Linked DNA regions of Homo sapiens: region 2 is linked to region 1. The links come from fine-mapping of genetic effects on gene expression. Tissue or cell type: whole blood. Region 1 holds a variant in brackets; the other region holds the start of a gene. All regions are shown on one strand. Distances are from middle to middle.

Evidence for each region. PIP is the estimated chance that this variant, and not a neighbour inherited with it, causes the effect.
Region 2: CMTM2 starts here. The variant in region 1 is fine-mapped to the expression of CMTM2 in whole blood (INTERVAL, PIP 0.91).

The regions. Positions count from the first base shown.
Region 1 is chr16:66,542,767-66,545,447 of GRCh38, reverse strand. All of the region lies in intron 2 of TK2 (thymidine kinase 2), which reads left to right. Among named protein-coding and RNA genes, the nearest start is that of TK2, 6.0 kb to the left of the region's middle. The variant G/A (reference allele first, on the strand shown) is at 1,222.
Region 2 is chr16:66,577,914-66,580,594 of GRCh38, reverse strand. It overlaps CMTM2 (CKLF like MARVEL transmembrane domain containing 2), which reads right to left and starts at 1,132. Exons shown (of 4, transcript NM_144673.3): 1 at 703-1,132; 2 at 411-569. The coding sequence starts at 987. It overlaps CKLF-CMTM1 (CKLF-CMTM1 readthrough), which reads right to left. Exons shown (of 4, transcript NM_001204099.2): 4 at 1,460-1,764. The coding sequence ends at 1,594. It overlaps CMTM1 (CKLF like MARVEL transmembrane domain containing 1), which reads right to left. Exons shown (of 4, transcript NM_052999.4): 4 at 1,460-1,764. The coding sequence ends at 1,594.

The sequences.
Region 1 (2,681 bases):
GTGCACTTTGTTTATCCACTTGCCAGTTGTTAGACGTTTGGGCAAGTTTCTTTTGACTGCAGATTTCTCAGGGTCTTTGATAAGACAGGATATTTGGATTCTCCCTGTGGAGGCTTTGGCACCCAAGCCAGTTTGCCTCTGGAACCCTGGGTTCTAATTAAACATCCAAATGACAATGATTGCTGAGATTTACGAGTGATTTTTATTTTCTTCTTTTAGGGATTGTGTAATAAGGTTTGATCAGAGAAATCCAACTGATAAATACATATATGCATATTCATAAACATATACATATATTCATGCATACATACATTCTTGTGTGTGAGAATGTATTTCTTTTTTTTTTTTTTTTTGAAGACAGGGTCTCACTCTGTCACCCAGACTGGAGTGCAGTGGTGTGATCTCGGCTCACCACAACCTCCACCTCTCAGCTCCCAAGCTCAAGCGATTCTCTTGCATCAGCCTCCCCAGTAGCTGGGATTACAGGCATCCGCCACCACGCCTGGCTAATTTTTGTATTTTTAGTAGAGACGGGGTTTCACCATGTTGGCCAGGCTGGTCTTGATCTCCTGACCTCAAATGATCCCCTGCCTCGGCCTCCCAAAATGCTGGGATTACAGGCGTGAGCCACTGCGCCTGGCCACTGAGAATGTATTTCTTAGCACAAGAATGCTTAATTTCCATTTTTAGGAAAGATTAAATATTGTTACTTATAATAGGGATAGATGGCTCATCACAGTTTCAGTTATAATCATGGAAAATTGGACTCAAGGGCTCATAGCAGAGGAAAATGGAGATAAATTGTAGCGTAATCACAGAGTGTTGGGCCAGGCCGGCCATGTGCTCCCACAGCATGGGGACCATCTCCTTTTCACAGTTTCCTGTTGCTTTCCTCCACACACTCATGAGCTCTTTGGCCGTTGCAACGAGGCCCTGAGTACACAGTGCCTGGCACAGCATAGGCCTTCAATAAACAGTTGAAACGTGCTCAAAGATGAGGACTGTATAGAAAATAATATTTGGCATGAAATATGCTCATATGTCATGGGGTTTATCTCTTAGTATTGGGATTATGGGTGATAGTTTCTCCTTTTTGATTTTCTGTATTTTCTTCAATGGGCATGCACTTCTCTTATAATATTTTTAGACATCACTTTAAAAAGAAATGTAAAGACTCCCTTTGCTTGCTTCCTGTTCCCCCTTCCATTTCAGGGGAACTTT[G/A]TGAGATTCTTCCTGCGTTGCCTGCTGTAAACCGGAGGGCAGATTGGCTGAGCTCATTCAGGGCCTGACATTCACCAGCTCTTCAGGATTTCATGCTGGGGATAGGAACAAGTTTCTGGGAGAAGGGCTTATCTGAACAACCTGTTAAAATGCTTCAATGAACAGGAAAGAAAAAAGACTGTAGAGTGATGTCTAGGTTGAGCTCTTTTTATATATCTAGGAAGAGGAAAAGTTTTCTTTAAAGAGCAATAAAAAAATTAAATCCATTAGTGCCCTAATGGGGTCTTTTCATGCCCTTTTGTTCATTCCCTTGGGTTCATTTTGTAGTTTGGGGCTCTAAAGGAGTGGGCTGGGAGGGACCCAGGATGGGAGAGTGGCCTTGTGTCTCCTGGATACCCGTTAGGATCAAGGCAGGAGGAACCTTCTCCGCCAGCTGACAGAGTTCTAGTTGCTGGGGAGACTTTAGTGGGGTCGGGTGAGACGGCCCACTGTGACCTGGTGTTTATGTGAGGTGTGACTGAGGCTCCATCAGGAGTCGTGAGAAGGGGCCTGGATGTGAATTCTAATTCTGATTCTTCCCTAGCCAAGTCTGGCACTTGGGTAAGTTACCTGTGTTGCCCAGGTTTCTCTGGGTGCTTCCAGCCTGAGTGCAAAGGAACAGGCCTCTGTGCAGCAGGTCGGGCCCCTCTCTGTGTGTGCCCCTGGAGGATGTCTAATGTGTTCTCAGGGGACAGTTTGTCTTATGTATTGGAGCTGCCCGTTCCCTGTGGCCATCTGCTGGAGCCAGAGCCACTGGGCCTATGTCATCAGCAGTGCCTGGCTGAGCAGAGCTTGGTCAGAATCACTGGGCTACAGGTTCAAGGGCTCCAGCCTAGAGTCTGATTTAGGGTCTGGATGCTACCTGGTGCCACCTCATGTTTAACCAGCTCCTCTGGTGCATCTGAAGCAGGCATCTGTGGACTAGACAGGGAGAAGCTCTGCTCCAGCCTCGTGGTTCCCATCCTTGCCTGCACATTGAAATCGCCTGGAGAGCTTTAAAAGTTACTGAGGCTTGGCCGGGTGCAGTGGCTCACGCCTGTAATCCCAGCACTTTGGGAGGCTGAGGCGGGTGGATCACCTGAGGTCGGGAGTTTGAGACCAGCCTGGCCTACATGGTGAAACCATGTCTCTACTAAAAATACAAAAAATTAGCCGGGTGTGGTGGTGGGCACCTGTAATCCCAGCTACTCGGGAGGCTGAGGCAGGAGAATGGCTTGAACCCAGGAGGTGGAGGTTGCAGTGAGCTGAGATCACGCCACTGTGCTCCAGCCTGGGCAACAAGAGTGAAACTCTGTCTCAAAGAAAAAAAAAGTTACTGAGTCTTGAGTCTCACTCCCAGAGATTGTGGTGTAATTGGTCTGGGCTGTGGCATCCCTGTAGAGATTTTTAAAAGGTCCCAGGTGGTCCTAGCGTATAGCCAG
Region 2 (2,681 bases), 35 kb before region 1:
TTATTGACTTATGGGAGAGTAATTTTCTTCTTTGAATTTTGGGAATGGGGTCCTTCTGGGGTGATCTCCTGTCAAGTGTGAGCTGGCACAGGAGTTCGGAGGAACAGCTGGTTGCTACACCTCCCCTTCCCCTAAAGAGAACAAAGGCTCAGGCCCTCTTTGACCACCAGGTAAGTAAGAGTTCCCCACTCTCACTCCAACACACAGATAGGCTTTTTGGAGCATTTTCTGCCTAGCTACCCCTCTTGCACCCAGCTGCCTCTGCCTGGGCCCCACTGATGTTCTGAGTCCCTGACCCAGGCACAGATATGGGAGGTGAGGTGTGTCTCTCTGTTTGGTGACTTTCCAGGTGCCAAGACACACCTGATCAGCATTCTGGATGCAGGCACTCCCCATCACCCCTTACTTACAGAAATGGGCCACAGGATGAAGGGTATGTATCTATGAATGGCAAAGCTGTACAGTAAGATGAAGAAGCTGAAGAAGGATATCTCCATGGTGATGATAAGCCTCAAGATGGGGTGCACGGTGAGTGAGGACAACAGTATCATTGCAGCTATTAGGCAGCCCTGCAGTGAGACATAGACACCTGAGCCAGCAGCAAGGGCCTTTCACCATCTCTCTGAGGACCCCTGGAGCCTACTCCTCCTTCCCCCCACCCTCGGCCAAGGCCCCCCACCCAGGGATACCAGTTTAGCTCACCAAACTCCGAATCTTGATCTCAGCGTGCCCCAAGAGCCAGAACTCTTTATTGCTGTCTTTTAATTCCCACCGGTAGCGGCGACACCCCCTCCTCGTGCCCACTTCGTGCTTGGGCTGCACCGCCTTTTGAGGTTTGTCCGATGGCTCCTTATGGTCCTGCACCGCCTTTTGAGGTTTGTCCGATGGCTCCTTACCGTCCTTCTTGTCTTCCTCGGGTTTGGCCCCGGGTGGAGGTGGAGCTGGTGCTGGCTCTGGCTTGGCCCCCTTTGCCGCCTTAGGTGCCATGACTGACTCGGTGTCCTTGGCTTCTCACAGCTGGCCTGTTTCTTCTCTCTCCTGCTGTTTCTGGGTAGGCCAGGCCTACTAGAGTGCCTGGTGTCCACCGAGCGGCTCAGAGGGCGTGCTCAGCTAACTGCCAGGACCACCGAATGCCAACTCCCGCGCCCTCTCCACGCGCGCCCGTCTCCTCGCGCAGCTCCCATCCGCCCGGCAGCGGCCGGATCCTCCCACCCTCCACGCGCCGGCCCCCGACGGGCCCCAACTCCGTTCCCAACCCGCCGGTCCCACCTCCGCGCGGAGCTGCCCTCGCGGTCCCATCCCGGCGTCTCCAGGTGGCCCCAGGTCTGTAAGCCGCCGCTCCGCTGCGGGGTCGGGGGGCTGCGAGCACCGGGTCACGGCCCTGAGCTCCGCGGGCGCAGCGCCAAGCGCAGGAAAATACAACGCGACTTTCACACAAGGCAACGAGAGGAAGCAGGTGTTCTCGATAAAAGCAGCAGCCCTAATTTTATGGTCACATTTAGGCTGGAATGGGTGACAGCATGCGAGCTCGGGGGTGGGCTCGGAGGCAGCGATTCGACAGACACGTGCATCTGCTAGGGCGCCGGGCTGGCTTCAGGCGGGCCTCTGCGGGGCGTCGGGGCCGGTTTCGGGGTAGGCGTCCTTGGCGGGGGAAAGCTTCCTTTCAACTTCGACTCCCAGGAATCTTTTCAAGTTGGTCCTCATCTTCGTGGTGACCACAAACGCATCGATGCAACACACGATTACCGCTGTGAGACACAGGGACTGTCAGATACAAGACCATATGCGGGAAGGAAAGACGGGGTTATTTTGCAGCTCAGTAGCAACCTCTCGAACCTATCCCTATCCAGGGTGGGCGCTGCGGGTGGCCTCCTGTCCCCTCTGACCCTTCACTACTTTCTTGGCGCCTGCCCAATTGGCTGCTGCAGGCGGATTCTGCCTTTCCCAGAAAAAGGGATTTTGGAAGTGGGGGATTTTGTTGCCAGTAGTAGCCTCGCTTGATGTCTGAGGCACCCGGAAAGGACTAGGGAAGGGCAGTGGCCCTAGGTGGCTGCAGGTAGGGGTTAGGTCCTGAGAAGCCCTCTCCGTGGAAAGACTTTTGGGCTATGTTTGCAAAGGGCAGGAAGGAGTTCCTAAGGGGAGGAGGAGGACCCAGGCACTGGACTAGGGTCTCTAAGGAATCTGGTGTGGCCAGGACCTCCAGAGCCGCTGAGAAGGGGGCAGAGTTGAGGCTGGAGAGGTGCAGGATCTGGGACTCTATCAGGAGGTCAGGTGTGAGATTCAGAAAACCTGCTTGCAGTGTTCATGAGGTGAATGGAAGGTGAACCAGGCTGGAGGCAGGAAGACCAGTGCGTGGTGGGGTGGGATGCTGCCATCCAGGTAAGAAATGGATACCTGGGGGTGGGAACCCCTGGCAGTAGAAGGAGTGATAGCGGAGTCAGCCGATGGGGACCAGGGGCTGATGGCACAGATATTCCCCTGTGCACTCCGGGACTCTTGACAACCTTGGATGTTTCTCTTTATGGTCACTTAATTCCTGGCTGCTTAATGAGCTTTTCCTAGGTATGTCTTGCCCCAGTGAATCTGTGAGCTTCCCCAAAGGGGAAAGGGCTCTATCCCCAGCACTGAGCTCATGTCTGGCACAATCAATGGGATTGACAGATATTTATTGATTATAGAAT